Regions from separate parts of the Homo sapiens genome. Here region 1 is linked to region 2. The links come from fine-mapping of genetic effects on gene expression. Tissue or cell type: whole blood. Region 2 holds a variant in brackets; the other region holds the start of a gene. All regions are shown on one strand. Distances are between the middles of the regions.

Evidence for each region. PIP is the estimated chance that this variant, and not a neighbour inherited with it, causes the effect.
Region 1: CLYBL starts here. The variant in region 2 is fine-mapped to the expression of CLYBL in whole blood (INTERVAL, PIP above 0.99).

Annotation. Positions count from the first base shown.
Region 1 is chr13:99,602,610-99,610,713 of GRCh38, forward strand. CLYBL (citramalyl-CoA lyase) reads left to right here and starts at 4,081. Exons shown (of 9, transcript NM_206808.5): 1 at 4,081-4,148. The coding sequence starts at 4,087. LOC105370332 (a long non-coding RNA gene) reads right to left here and starts at 3,240. Exons shown (of 3, transcript XR_931674.3): 1 at 3,153-3,240; 2 at 637-742. RefSeq lists enhancers at 2,944-3,923, 3,846-4,140 and a silencer at 3,862-4,421.
Region 2 is chr13:99,858,721-99,866,819 of GRCh38, forward strand. CLYBL (citramalyl-CoA lyase) reads left to right here. Exons shown (of 9, transcript NM_206808.5): 3 at 141-329; 4 at 4,271-4,372; 5 at 6,098-6,191; 6 at 7,520-7,687. The region is part of intron 1 of CLYBL-AS3 (CLYBL antisense RNA 3); the gene reads right to left. Among named protein-coding and RNA genes, the nearest start is that of CLYBL-AS3, 94 kb to the right of the region's middle. The variant T/TA (reference allele first, on the strand shown) is at 3,762.

The DNA of each region.
Region 1 (8,104 bases), 260 kb before region 2:
TCAACAGGATAGTGAATCTCGGAATTATTCACCCTACTAAATTTCATATGCTCTCTTGATGCACTTGGAAAATTGATACTTTTCTTTTCAGTTTTGGAAGCTGTGAGTAAAGATAGACTTGACTGTCCTAAAGGAGGAACTCTGAATCCCTTTCTCTATTATATTTGGAAATATGTTGATATGGTTTGGCTGTGTCCCCATCCAAAATCTCATCTTGAATTGAAATCCTCCAAATCCCCACGTGTCAAGGGAGAGACCAGGTGGAGGTCACTGAGTCACGGGGGCAGTTTCCCCCATGCTGTTCTCGAGATCGGAGATTGGAGAACTCACTCGTGAGTTTGGTAGTTCCTTCTGTGTTCATTCTCCTTCCTGCCATCTTGAGAAGAAGGTGCCTTGTTTCCCCTTCACGTTCCGTCATGATTATAAGTTTCCTGTGGCTTCCCCAGCTATGCTGAACTGTGAGTCAATTAAAGCTCTTTCCTTTATAAATTACCCAGCTTCGGTCAGTTCTTTATAGCAATGTGAAAACGGACTAATACACGTGTCCTCCAGACACCCACATACTATGTAGATAAAGTTAATAAAACTTTATTTTAACATGTACTAGCATTAGGAAACAGTTAGTTGTTAACCTACCTACTGATTAGCAAAATGCATGAGTCAGTAATCTTGTGAAGAAACTCAACAACCCCCTACCATTGCTGGTGAGAATGGGCACAGCTACAATTTCTTCTAGGAGAATCTGAAATTGAACCAATTAGCAAATAAGACATAGTAGGACCTACTTTAGATCCAAGGCATTTTAAATAAGGATAACTAGTTATACAGCAGTTTTCAACTGTAATGAGGCTGGTAGAACATTTTCATCATATATACATTTTGTTTTGTTTTGTTTTGTTTGAGATGGAGTCTTGCTCTGTCACCCAGGCTGGAGTGCAGTGGCATGATCTCAGCTCACTGCAACCTCCACCTCCCAGGTTCAAGCAATTCTCCTGTCTCAGCCTCCCGAGTAGCTGGGACTACAGGCGCACACCACCATACCCGGCTAATTTTTGTATTTTTAATAGAGACAGGGCTTTACCATGTTGGCCAGGCTGGTCTCGAACTCCTGACCTCAGGTGATCCGCCCGCCTCGGCCTCCAAATGTGCTGGGATTATAGGCGTGAGCCACCATCTTATATGTATTGAATACCTGCCGGGTATAAATCACTGAGCCAGGTGCTGGGGGCACAGCAGCGACAAGACATATAAGGTCCCTGCTCTCAAAGAAGTTATGCTCTCATCCTACAGAAGGTGTTTCTAAGTCAAGACACCAAGAGCCTTTCTCCCAAGGTGGCTACCCAGCACATCACTAGCCCTGCCCCCTAAACAACAATACTGCATCCCAAAGCCCACCTGATAGATGGTTAGTCATCCCATCCCACCCCACCCTCTGAGAACTGCTGGGGAAAGGCACAATAAAGAAGTATTAGGTCGGTGCAAAAGTAATTGTGGGTTTTGCCATTATTTTCAATTCTGTAAGTTTTTTGAGAGCAGGGACCTTGTATGTCTTGTCACTGCTGTGCTCCCAGCACCTGGCTCAGTGAATCCTACCTGGCAGGTATTCAATACATATAAGATGAAATTGTTCTTGCCATTACTTTGAATGGCAAAAACCGCAATTACTTTGGCATGAACCTAATAAATTCACAAACTCATATATCGACATTGTGGTGGAGATGACCAGGCACTGTGACAGTGAAATAGATGTGGGGGCGCCGTTGGGGATCTTTAGGTTATTAGCACAGGCCCCTGTGAGGAGGTGGCACGTAGGCTGAAGGTCCTGGAGGATGAGCAGGTGTAGCCATGAGCATTCTGGGGATGAGGAACGGCATGTGTGAAGGCCCCACGGTGGGAGAGAGCCTCGTGGACTTAGAAAACACAGACAGAAGATGAGTGGGGCTGGAGATAAATTGGAGAGGCTGGCAGGGGCCAGACCGTGTGAGGCTTTAAGGGTCATGGGGAAGAACTCGGATTTTATTCTAAAGCCACTAAAGGGTTTTAAGAAGGGAAGCGATGCAATGACAATAATAATGAGGAATAGTTAACACTACTGAGAACTTGCTTAGATTTTAAGTGTGCAGTCTCTCTCTATGTATATGTAAACTCAGTCTATCATTATAACAAGCCTATGAGGTGATGAGGTATTTATACCCCCATTTTATAGATGAGGAAACAGAGAGCTTAAGAAACTTGACCAAAGTCACACAGCAAGTCAACTCTGGAACTAGGAGCTGCGTCATGCTTTTAAAAGGTCAGCCAGGTTTTATGGCAAACGGGTGATTGTAGGAGGGAAGAATGGGAGCAAGGAGGCTTTGAAATAATCCAGGTAAAGGATGATGATGTCCAGAATCAGACTTGAGTGAGGTGAGTGCAGCCCCAGCCTGGGATGCAAAATTTAAGGAGAAGTCTCAGTAATTACTGCACTCCAGCCTGGGCGACAGAGCGAGACTCCATCTCAGAAAAAAAAAAAAAAAAAAAGATAAGTAATATTGGCCTGGCATGGTGGCTCATGCCTGTAAGCCCAGCACTTTGGGAGGCTGACGCGGATGGATCACTTGAGGCCACGAGTTCGAGACCAGCCTAGCCAACATGGTGAAACCCTATCTCTACTAAAAATACAAAACAATTAGTTGGAAGTGGTGGCACTTGCCTGTAGTCCCAGCTACTCAGGAGGCTGAGGGGTGAGAATCACTCAAGCCTAGGAGGTGGAGGTTACAGTGTGTGAGCTGAGATCGTGCCACTGCACTACAGCCTGGGCGACAGAGCAAGACTGTCTCAAAAAAAAAAAAAAAGTAATATTCTAAACTAAAAACCAAGATAATGGAAAAATCCCATTATGAACAAAATATCAAAATTTTAATTAAAGACAGGATTGGTGTTACTGAAATTGCCTTTGCCTCAGGCTTCAGTATGGCTGGACCGGGCACTGGCTGGGACTAAGGTGGTGACAAGAAAGTGACCAAATTGGAGTAGACAGGCGAGGCCTGAGGTGGAGCAGGCGTGGGAGCTGGGGGAGGGCACCAAGGGGTTGAGCAGTCTCCCCTGTTGGTATCGAATATAACAATAATTCTTAGGCTCAGCAGAAGTTTAGCATCCATGTTCCCAGTCACCTGGACTTTTCCAAATCTTGGAACCCCCTCTGGCTGAAAAGGCTTTTGTTTGTTTAAACGGCCACTTTTTGCATCCAAGAGCACAAGTCAGCTTCCACTGGAAGGTTCTGAGAAACGGTTTCAGGTTTAAGTCTAGAGCATGAATGGAACGGAGTCACAGCTGAAAAAGAAACATGCCGAGTGCCAAGGAAAAGACATGGTTAAGGGGTAACATGGGCCCGGGTAGGTGAAGGTCGGCAGGTGGAGGCCGGCTGGATCAGGGAAGGTGAAAGAAGAGGCAGGGGCAGGGCCCAGCCTGTTTTAACGCCTCGGCGTTCTCACCGCTGCAGAACGGCTGCAGGGGGCAGAGTAAAGAGCTGCTGTCAGTTTCCCTGCCCAGAGAGTGCCAACAGCTGCTCTGACCTATTGCAGGCATGTGTGTTCCAGGATGCAGCCTTCCTGCACTTTGACCACTCTAGATTAATTGCTAACCAAGATATGCACATGATGGGGCTCACAAAGTATTAGGCGGTATTTTAACAACAAAAGCTGCGAAGAAATCCCTAGAAATGTTGGCTCTTCTGGCTGGGAAAACGCAGTCTGTCAACAGTTGCCTCAAAAACTCAGAAGCTCAGAGAGTTGGATTCGGTCACCAGAGAGGCCCCTCAAAGAGGCCCCAACCATTCAGATCCTCTGCTCTGTCCCCCATGACAGCGGGGACGAAGGTCCTAAGCCCTGGCCGGGAGGGCAGTTGACCTCGGGACTCGCCGCGGGGCGGAGCGGGTGCTGGGAGGAAGGAGGGCGTGGCTGGCGGGGTGTGGCTGGCGGGACGGGGCGGGGCGAAGACAGAGCGAGGCGGGGCCTGGGACGGGGGGGGGGTCGGTGTCGCCGTGGGGGCGTGGAATGTGGGGTGGGCGTGGCTAAAGGCAAAGGGCGGGGCGCGCGCGTCGGGAAGATGGCGCTACGTCTGCTGCGGAGGGCGGCGCGCGGAGCTGCGGCGGCGGCGCTGCTGAGGCTGTGAGTGCAGGTCCCCGTTCCCCGCCTTCCCGGCCCGGCTCGCCGCGGGTCGGCTCCTGTTGCAGCCCCGCGGGCCGGGCGCGGCCTCCCCAAGCCCTCACGGGAACCCAGCCGGACGGAAGCACCATGCGCCTCCCACGCGCTGGCTCGACCTCGTCCAAGGTCGCTGCCGCCCGCGCCTCCCTTTGGGAGGGCCCTCGTTGCACCCGGAAAATGGGTACACACCTTAGGTCGAATTACCTGGACTCAGCCCCAGGAAACAAAACTGCCTGCCTCCCCCAAATGGCAAACGTGAACGCGCCAGTCTTTGAGAGGCGGCTTGCCTGGTGAAGAACACCTGCGGTTCGTTTAACACAGCGGTTCCCAAACGGTTTGGTCTCAGGACCCGTTTACACGTCTAAAAATAATTTGAGGACCCCCCAAAGCTTTTGCTTATATCTATTGATTTTTGTGCATGAGGAATTAAACCAGAAATTTAAAAAATATTCACTTAATAACAAACCCATTAACTTTTAATACAAATAACACTTTAATGCATAACTTCTCAAAAAAAAAGTGAGAAGATTGGCTCATGGTTTTTATATTTTTGAAAATTTCTTTGGTTTAATAAAGGACAGCTGGAGTCTCATATCAGCTGTTTTGAAGGAAATATTTGAAAGAAATTCTGGGCTCATGCAGATGCAGATATTAGTTGGGAAAGGGAGGACCAAGCAGACCCTCTCAACGGGTCTCAGGGACCCCCTCAGGTGTCTTTGGACCACACTTTGAGAACCGCTGGTCTAGCACTTGCCCATCGCCTAGGTACGTGCACATACATGGTCTCATTTGGTTCCCTTGACCACCATGTGAAGAAGTTGGGTGTCATGTTTATAAAGATGAAAAAACAGGGTCAGAAAGGTTAAGGATTCTCAAAGCCCTATGACCAGTAATGAGAGAGTTTGGTTCAAACACTAAGTGTATGGCTCCTGGTCTGGAACTTCTTTATTTATTTATTTTTATTTTTTGAGACAGAGTCTCGGTCTGTCACCTAGGCTGTAGTACAGTGGTGTAATCTCGGCTTACTGCAACCTCCACCTCCTGGGTTCAAGCGATTCTCATGCCTCAGCCTCCTGAGTGGCTGGCATTACAGGTGTGCACCACCACCCCTGGCTAATTTTTGTATTTTTAGTAGAGACAGAGTTTCGCCATGTTGGCCAGGCTGTTCTCGAACTCCTGACCTCAAGGGGGTCCACCCGGATCAGCCTCCCAAAGTGCTGGGATTACAGGCGTGAGCCACCATGGCCGGCCTGGTGGTCTGGAACTTCTTTTTTTTTTTTTTTTTTTTTTTTTCCGAGATGGAGTTTCGCTTTTGTCGCCCAGGCTGGAGTGCAATGGCGCCATCTCAGCTGACTGCAACCTCCGCCTCCCGGATTCAAGTGATTCTCCTGCCGCAGCCTCCGGAGTAGTTGGGATTACAGGGCGTCCGCCACCATGCCCGGCTAATTTTTGTATTTTTAATAGAGACGAGGTTTCACCATGTTGGCCAGGCTGGTCTGGAGCTCCTGACCTCGGGTGATCCACCTGCCTCGGCCTCCCAAAGTGTTGGGATTAAAGGCGTGAGCCACCGTGCCCGGCCTGGGTCTGAACTTCTTACGTCTTCTTGCACTGTGACTCTTCAGTCACCCATGTCCTATGGGAGGACCCACCTAGTCTTATGCATCCCACTTTCCCATTTCCTCCGCTGCCCCTGGCACAGGGGAGTCACCCCTCGCCCTAGAGGAGCAGCTCAGGCAGTGTATCCAGGCTGGTCCAGAAGGGTCCTTTTCTGGCGCCTTTTGAGGGGGCCAGCGTCTGTGACCTGTTCAGTAGCGGGTCCAGTGAGCGCACACAGTCCCCACGCCAGTACGCTGGGGGTTAACTCAGTGCTCCTCACCCGCCTTAGCACACTGGTCTGTTCTCGACATGTCTACCCGCTGAATATAGGATTCTTGATTGGCATTTTTTTTCCTTTGAGCATTTTAAAGCGTATTATCGCACTGTCTTTTTGCCTCCATTATTCTAATGAGAATTCAGACGTTAATGTTATTAGGGTTCTATGTAAGTGATGAGTCTTTTTTTTTTTTTTTTTTTTTTTTTTTTTGCTTGATTTTCTCTTTGTCTTGGTCTTTCGGTGGTTTTATTATGATGTGTGTAGATCTGTTTGAGTTTATCCTCTTGGAAGTTTATTGAGTTTCTTGGATGTGTATACATCAAATTTGGGAAGTTTTTGGCTATTGTTCTCTCAAAAAAGTCTACTCTCTTATCTCTCTCTTCTCTTTCGGAGGCTCCCATTGCGTATATGTTGGTGTAGTTGATGGAACCCCACAGGTCTTTGAGACTGTTCCATTTTCTTTCTGTTCCTCAGGCTGGACAATGTCAATTGACCTGTCTTTGTTTTTTTTTTTTTTTTTTTTTTTTTTGAGACAGAGTCTTGCTCTGTCACCAGGCTGGAGTTCAGTGGCGCAATTTCTGCCCACTGCAACCTCTGACTCCCGGGTTCAAGCGATTCTCCTGCTCCAGCTTCCCGAGTAGTTGGGATTACAGGCACGCGCCACCACGTCCAGCTAATTTTTGTATTTTTAGTAGAGACGGGGTTTCACCATGTTGGCCAGGATGGTCTCGATCTTCTGACCTCGTGATCCACCTGCCTTGGCCTCCCAAAGTGCTGGGATTACAGGTGTGAGCCACCGTGCCCAGCCGACCTGTTTTTAGGTTTGCTGATTGCTCCGTCTTCCAACTCAAATCATTTTCATTTTAATCCAGAACTTCTTTCTTTTTGGAGAATGAGTCTCACTCTGTCACCCAGGCTGGAGTGCAGTGGTGCAATCTGGGCTCACTACAACCTCTGCCTCCTGGGCTCAAGCTGTCCTCCCACCTCAGCCTCCCAAATAGCTGGGACTACAGGTGTGCACCACTGCACCTGGCTAATTGTTTCTATTCTTTTGTAGAAATCAGGTTTCGCCATGTTGCTCAGGCTGGTCTCGAACTTGGCTCAAGCAATCTGCCTGCCTCTGTCGCTCATAGTATTGGGATTACAGGCATGAGCCATCATGCCCGGCCCTTTTCTATACTTTCTATCTCTTCATTGATATTCTCTATGTACTGAAACATCGTTCTCATACTTTCCTTTAGTTCTTTTTTTCTTTCTTTCTCTTAGAGACGGAGTCTCCAGGCTGGAGTGCAGTGGTGAGATCGTAGCTCACTGCAGCCTGCAGCTCCTGGGCTCAAGTGATCCTCCTGCCTCAGCCTCCCCAGTAGCTGGGACTACAGGCACACACCACTATGCCCAGCTAATTTTTAAATTTTTTGAAGAGACAGAGTCTTGCAGTGTTGCCAAGGGTGGTCTTGAACTGCTGGGTTCAAATGATTTTCTTGCCTTGGCCTCCAAAGCAGTGGAATTCTAGGCATGAACGACTGCACCTGGACTCCTTCAGTTCTTTATGCATAGTTTCCTTTCGTTTTTTGAACATACTTTAAATAGATGATTTAATTAGTAAGTCCAACATCTGGACTTCCTCAGGGACAGTTTGTACTGACTACTTTTTTCCTGTGTGTATAGGTCATACTTTCTTTTCGTTGCATGTCTTGTATATTTTTTTGAAAACTGGACATTTTAAGTAATATAATGGGGCAACTCTGGAAATCAGATTTCTCCCTTTTGCCAGGGTTTATTGTTGTTGTTGTTTGCTTAGTGACTTTAATAAACTAATTCTGCATTGTATTCTTTGTCATGTGCAACCAGCGAGGTCTCTGCTTGGTTAGCTTAGTAGTCTAACAATTAGACAAAGGTTTCCTTAAATTCCTGGAACCAGTAAGTCTCCTAGTCTTTGCTGAGGGACTCTGTGTGTGTCAGGACATGTCTTCAACATTCAGCCACAGTTTGTCCTGCTTCCACAGAGACTGAAGGTTAGCTAGACATGAGCACTTAAGGTCTTTCC
Region 2 (8,099 bases):
TATTTATTTGGTGGACAGGAAATGTGTAGATAGAATAATGGTGCTCAGACTCTGAATCCACATAACAGTTTCATCAACCATTTGATGGTGCTCCCCTCAATGATAAAAATAAACAATAAACTTTTTATTGACACTTACAGAATGAAGCTCGACTGAGAATTGTAAAAACTCTTGAAGACATTGATCTGGGCCCTACTGAAAAATGTGTGAGAGTCAACTCAGTTTCCAGTGGTCTGGCGGAAGAAGACCTAGAGACCCTTTTGCAATCCCGGGTCCTTCCTTCCAGCCTGATGCTACCAAAGGTGGAAAGTCCTGAAGAAATCCAGTGGGTGAGTAGCTAATGCTTTGCCTTAAGACTCAGGAGCAGCTAAGGAGGAGTAGCAGGAAGAAGGGATCTGGGTGCCACAGGTTTGGAAAATGCATGCAGAGAGCAGAGAGGAAGGGAATTGAGAAAAAGCAGTAAGCTCAAGTATCCGTTTCTTTTACACAAGGAAAACTCGCCTTTGCCCAAAGTGTTCTATGAAACAACTGCACTTTTGAAATGATGCTTCGCTTCCTAATTGGATGTGTGGTTTGGCCAGAACAGCCTCCTCAGTAGCCCTCCCAGAGTAATCCCTGGAAACTAGGTTGCCCGAGAATCTCATCCCTTCCTCCACCCTGCCCGGCCCTAAGCCAAGGCCTCCACCTGGAAGAGCAGTGACGTAAATGGCCCTTACTGAGATTCATCTGAAATCATCCCAGGCAGGGAGGGCACATTTGCCGCATATGAAAAAATGAACCCAAAGAAGGGGAGGAAAAGGTCACTCTTTAGGGCAACTGGAGGAATGAACAGGAAGCTTTTAACTAGTGGTTTCAATTAGCACTGATATTATTTCCTGAACAGTTCTCTAGTGCATCCTTTTTAAATTGCTGACAGGTGTGTTTGTGTTTCATGACAGACTTTTCAGCCAATAAAAACCTGAAATGTAAAGTGGTTGGCATGTCAAATTACTTAAGAAAACTTTTGAAATAGGCCTAATTACACTATGATTGTTTTAATTGACAAAGGGTGGAGGGGCTAGATTTTATTTGAGGGTCGCTATTATTCTGCAGATCTCTACTGAATAAAATAACATTTCACTGTGTTGTTCTGGGACAGAAAATGTGTCATTCTGGGCCCTGTGAGGTGTGAAAACTGGAAGCGTTTGTGGTCGGGGCGAGTGGGCAGTGGTGGTTTCATGGAAGCCACATCTAGTATTATCTCTGAGGCTGTGGCTGCCACCACAGCAATACCCTGAGTTGTTGTAACACCTACGAAACTGCTCACCTGCTGAATGCACCCGATGTGTGAGGTCTGCGTTGCCCAGTGCCACGGCCACTATGACATGTGGCTTCTGAGCATTGAAACGTGGCCAGCACAAATGGAGATGTGCTGGAAGTGCAAAATACACACTCGATTTTGAAGACTCGGGACTCACTGAGGGGACAAAAAGAGAATGTAAACTATCTCGATAATTTTTATATTGATTACACATTGAAATAATATTTGGGATCTATTGGGCTAAATACAAGATACTATTAAAATTAAATTCACCTGTTTCAGTTTACCCTCAATGTAGCTACGAGATAATTTAAAATTATTATATGTAGCTGCTGCTATACAGTTTCTTTTGGACAGCTCTGTGTTGGATCCTTCTTGAAGACCCGTATTCAAGGACCAGTTATTTATTGACTAAGCTGGAGTTCTTCTCTCCAGGGTTACCCTCAGAAGCTGGGAGATACTAGTTAAGAGTATGTTAATATCCTGGAGGGTCCTGAGCCCATTCAGATATGTCTTAAGTTGATTGAAATGGACTCTGAAGTCACTGTTCCCTTTTGGTTTCATAGTTAATGCCTATTTATCACCGTTATTACCTTTAACTTAAGATGGGGGAGGGGGAGACCCAGCCAGCCTTCCGCTATGGCTTCTGTTCACTGTTTTAAATCCTTGGAAGTGAGACACATACAGAAATTTAAATAGAACTTCTAGTTAACAGAAGTCCTTTTGGCTGTTTATTTTTTCCTCTCCGTTTGTATTTATGCGAAGCATAAAACCCAGAGCCTGATGCACAACTGAAAGATGGGCTTACTTGTTTTCTTTTGTGTGAGAATCTCTTGCTCGCCTTTTGTCGCTAGTGTGGGTTCTTGTTTGACTGGCACGGCTTATTGGACTATAACAAGCGTAACCCTGCCTCCTTTGTCATGGGACAATTCTCCCACAAATCCCGAACAGTGTGCATTCTTCCAACACACTATTGGGTGTGCACTGGAATTGAAAGAATCGCTGAGCCCTGCTACTTCATCTCCTCCCCAATCTCTTTGTGATTTCTCCCCCTTCTTCTCCTCCCCCTACCCCAGTCCCCTCCACCTCGCTGAAATGAACACTTTACCAGGCCGGAAACATTTAATCGTCTCCTTTTGAAAAAATTAATTGAAACTTCTCCACTAGTTACCTTTTGTGTTAGTACTTAGTGCAATTTTTTAAGAAAGAGGGGGAGGAGGAGGAGGAGGAGGATGGGCTAGAATATTTAATTTTTAAATGCCCCTATTGGCTTAAAAACAAAAGGCATTGGGGTGTTCTCACTAAGAACAGGGAATATATTGTAAAGTGTTGACTTGGTTTTAAAGTCCATGATTTTTGTAGTTATAACTGTCATCACAAAGAATGGGGCAAGTCACTTCACAAGTTTTCTTTTTTAATGAGAAAAAATATCCCTACTACATTTTTAACACCAAAACCACTAATACTGTGCTACCACTTTCTAGCATAAATGAGAAATAAATTATATTTTATTTTCATCTACATCAAATACTATACATTTTATCCCCTTAAATTGTCACCCCCTGCTCCTTCTTGCTATTTTGGTTGAGTTATTCCTTCCCTTGAAAAGTTACTAAGGAGGTGATGATGATGCCCTTTGAAGGGGGGGCAGTGGGAGCAACTGGGAATAATTCTTCATTACTGAAAGCTGTGATTTATTTTAGCCTAATTGTAAAGTTACTGCAAATTGCTCAAAAGCTTTTTAAAGATCCCAGTGATTAGATTTTTTAGGGGGGTGGTGCACCGGCAAGGAGGGGGCAGCTAGAAGGGGAAATAACACCTCTAATCCCGCTTCTGGTAAATAGGCTGCCAGCTTTTCAAATGAGTTTCCTTTCTATTAGTCAGAATATTATGCTAAGCCTTAAGCATTAGTTTTTTTATGTTGCCATAGCAGCCTTATTCCTGCAGGGTGGTGACCTGTGATGATTACAGTACAAAGCTTATAGGGTCTTGAAACCCCCTTTGAAGATGAAAAGTCTTTGATGGTTTATATTTATGCAAATCTCTTAGATATGATTTACCCAACTGAGACTGAATGGAGAGATGATTAAAATTCCCTTTTCCTTTGATATCTATTAATGGCTGAATATTCCTTAAATTTAAAATGGATATATATGTTTTCATCTTTATTTACAAAAATACCTTTATCATACCTGTGTTTCTTCTCTATCTATCTCCCCACATCTTATTAGATCTAGATAGACATAATAGATTTACAATTTAGAGTGTGTTTTTTTCCCCCTTTTGAAGAGGGGGAGGAATCTGGGCAAGAGCTTTTGTATGTTTCCAGATGATAGATTTTGGAATTTGGGCTACCCCACTGGCAGCACAGAGCTAGCTGTGAACTGGTCTCATGGAAAAAATTGGCGAGCTTTGGTCTTCAAAGAATTAAACTTCCTTTTTAAGGTCTTCCTAGGTAAGC[T/TA]AAAAAATTATGAAGAAAAACCTTCTGAACAAAGGGTAATGGTGCTATAATGAATAATATGGACTCCACGTAGAAGGCTGCTGAACAGTTGCACTGATGTCAGTGCTGGGCACGAAACAAAAACAGAATGGCAGGTAGAGGAAGAGTTCATTGTTTTAAGGGCCTACCATTTGCATTTAACGAAGCGAGGGCAAGAGGTCTTAAGTAAATGCGTTTTCAGGGAAAGCGTTTATACTCTCTCCTTCCAGTTCTAACTCCTAGGCCTCAAGTTGCTCCTTTGGGAGAAAAAAATTGTAATGCTTAGGATTTTACTATTTAGTTTGGTGGGAACTTCATTACCTTTTTCTTTGGACTTTCTTCTTATTTTTTTAAAAAAATTCTTTTGTGTGGACGAAAGAGGCTTGGATATTACTTCCTCAGGTCAAAGACTTAAATACTACTTCTGGGTCTACATTTCCGTGATTGTACATTTTTTCCCCACTAATCACCTATGACACTTCTGATTTTAGTTTGCAGACAAATTTTCATTCCACTTAAAAGGCCGAAAACTTGAACAACCAATGAATTTAATCCCTTTTGTGGAAACTGCAATGGGTTTGCTCAATTTTAAGGTAAGGAAGCCATAATACGGTTAATAAGTTAGCATTTTATTTATCACCTAAAGAGAACTTTTGCTTTCAATTTTAACATCTTCTTAAAATGTGTTTCTAGAAAGATTTATAAGCAAAGGAAATGTTGAGCACCATTTGTTATCTGTAATAGTCCAAAAACCAGGTTGCCAGCATCTTAGAAAACAATGAAATCAGTTAGGTAGAAGGAAAAGCTTCCCAGTCCAAAATATTTAAATGAAGCATTTGTATATTCCTAGTAACAATTTTAACTAATCACTGTGTAATTATATGCTTTGAATTATTGCATTTATAGACTAAATGTACATGAAAATTTGTCACCCTTATGAATTAACTTTGAAATGTTCTTTTCTATCAAATGTCTTTTCAGTGGGAAATGTTCTGCCCTCTCTGTAGCAACATTATCAGTAATGTCTAGCAGAGAAGATTATTGTTTGTAAGTTCATGCACACAAATAATTTGCAGTACAGTTTTTCAGTTTGCCACATTAGAATATCTTCTAATATACATGCGGGAATATTGGCTGAGCCAAGTGTTTTCAGCCGTTGTGTGGTTGCACTAAACTACCGGTCTTAACAAATTCAGAGCTAGCTCGTTTTTTCTCGTTTATCAGGGGGCATTTATATTATTTTCCAAAATATGCCTCTCATTCCACCTGACCTGCGAACATCAATCTAGCACCCCCTTTCAGAGTTCCTAGATTCCCTTCCCCCACCCCAGCCCCCACAGAGGGCAGGAGAAAAGAAATCACTAAAAACAACAGAAAAAACATAGTCGAACTGTACTGGAGAGAGAATGTGTGAGCGGCAACTTTGAGGCCTTGGGATGTGCAGAAGGGGTCGAGTGCAAATGTTTGGGGACCTGCTTCAAACCTTGTCCTGTGAGCAGCTTGTTTACACAACTAACCATACATTCTTCCAGCCAGCCCCAGAATCCTGAGAATATAATCAAAAGCATATCCCTAAGATGCAACCAGATTCATCCAGTGATTTAATTTTAAGCACTGCTTCGCCATTTTATTCCATAATGTACTTAGAAGCACTTACAATGTCTGAAATTAATCAACAGTGTCCCCACCGGTTCCTCGTTTCTTTCCCACCCACGTATATTATTAGCAGGTTATATCTCCACCTTTCAAGATTCACGGTTATGTCTACGACGAATGGTATTTGCCTTGACTTTCATATATAAATGTCGAAGTTGCTTTATGAACACATCTTGGATGACTTGTTGCATTTTTATTTTCCCCTCCGGAGTTGCAGGTTTTTGTGCTGTCTTTAATCCTGAGACCATGTGCTTGATCCTAATGCAAATAATTCAATTAGTTTGATTTTAAAATTCCTTCCTTCTCCCCTGTGGTTTTACGAGAGTCTCTTAAAGCAAAAACGAATTCTGGAAAGATATAAATAACTTATAGTGCAAGCAAAATGAGTTAACTCAAAGTTTCTCCAAAAATGAGATGAACTACAATTTGAACATTATAACTATATTCATATAATCCATTAAACAAAGCAAATATATACAATATACTTATCTTGGATGATATTAAATACCTTTTGAAAGGGGTAAATTTGGGCTGCGTTTTTAGGACTGCTTTCAGCCAAACTGTGTTAAGAGTCAGGTCGTCCTGTTACTGAAATGCACCGTGCCTCTTCCCTCTGACGCACGCGTTTCCGTGAGACTTAGTTCTGTTCTGCTCTTTTACAGGCAGTGTGTGAAGAAACCCTGAAGGTCGGGCCTCAAGTAGGTCTCTTTCTAGATGCAGTCGTTTTTGGAGGAGAAGACTTTCGAGCCAGCATAGGTGTCAAAGACATCTCTCTCTCTCTTTTTCTGTGTGTGTGTGTGTATATGTGTGTATATATTTTTTCTTTGCCCCTCAAGGATGGACATTTACATAACAATGTATATTTGCCAACCATGACAATGGTTTTTCATGACAATGGAATGGACACTACTTCCTGATAATTTAGGGCTCCTCATAGCTGCCCTGCTTCTAGAGCACTGCATTATTACTTCTGTTCATTTATAAAAGACACGAGCAATAGAAAGCCTGTTGCAGCCCCAGGCATGCTCAGGAATATATGGCATCTCCTTTGCTCCTAATAAATATATTATGTGAACAGCCTCACCGTTGCTTCAGTATTTTGTTTTCATATCAGTCTGTGGGCTGTCTAGATTTCTAACGCAAATTTAAGGCAATTTCACATTTGCCTTAATGAATTGTTTTCTACAGAATATGCGGTAGGTAAATATTATTTTAAATGGATCTTAAATTTCTCTTACAATATGTTTCGAACTCTTAGTATTAAATGTGCTGATTTTCACCGATTCTCACCATCCCTTGTGAGCTGCACTTGAGGGGTCTGCATGTTTGACTGGAGACCGTGAAGCATTTAGAAAAGAGGCCGAGGCCACAGAAACCAGCCCCAGTGACCTGAAGACAGGCACTTTCCCTAGGCAGGGAGTGGCATGTTCCAAATGTAAACAGGGACACTTCCCTCCCCTCAGGGTGAAAAAACTGAATTTATTTGAATACGAGTCTTTCCAGGAGACTTGTGTATCCAACGGTTCAGCGGGCTACAGAAGGCATATCGATGCTTTCCAGCCCTCTCAAAACAAGTGCCCTCCCGTCTCCCCAAGTTCTCCATCCAGACAGACCCTGAAGCTGAAGCATTTGGCTCAGAACTTCAGTTTGGACAGGGCAATCGCAGCACACACAGTTCTGTGCTTGCTGTGAAACACGAACCATTGCCCTGCATAGCTGCTGGGCCACCCTTTGTGGTGCTGTCTTTGGACTGGCACTTTTCAAGCGATGATAAGAAGGAAAAAAATATATCAGGAGTCCCTTGCGACCCTGACCCAGCCTCCCAGAATGGGGAAGGGGCCTTCTCTTAATGCAGGTAGAAGTAATTCTATTGAAAGATGCCTTGTCAGTTAAACAGACACATTCGAGGTTTAACTTGGCCTCCACGCGTCCCTGTCTTCATTTGTATTTCAATAATTTTATTTTGCGGAGGAGCAATTTCCAGGGAGGTTTAGATATCTGTACAAACTGAGGTTTTATAATAAATATCTGGGTGCGGTTTCCAAAGTTAAAGCCTCCTTTTTCTGTTAACATCCCATTTTCAGGTGCAACAAGTAGTAAAGAAACCCTGGATATTCTCTACGCCCGGCAAAAGATTGTTGTCATAGCGAAAGCCTTTGGTCTCCAAGCCATAGATCTGGTGTACATTGACTTTCGAGATGGAGCTGGGCTGCTTAGACAGTCACGAGAAGGAGCCGCCATGGGCTTCACTGGTATGATTCCTGTCTTAGAAAGCAGTGTCTAAATTAGCAAGCATTCCAGAAAAATAGAAATTTGACCCGAAAACACCCCTAATCTCATCAGATATCTCCCATACTTACTCCACTATTTGAAATATGAGCAAGTCACACAGGGGAAGAACTTGCCAGACACATTGTCATGGTTTTCCTTGGCCCTGCAAGTCAACAAATCACTCATTTTATTTCCTCTTTATATTAGTTGCTTTTTTTTTTTTCTCTCCATCCTCTTAATCATTTTGTTGTAGTCTTGGCTGACCTGTAGGGAGGGATGAGGCTGCTCAAAAAGTGTTTTTGAGTGAACCGCCATAAGAATTTTGGTTGATGGACAGAAGAAAAATCTCCTAGAATATCCAAAATTTAATTCATTTCTGAAAAAAAATGTTGG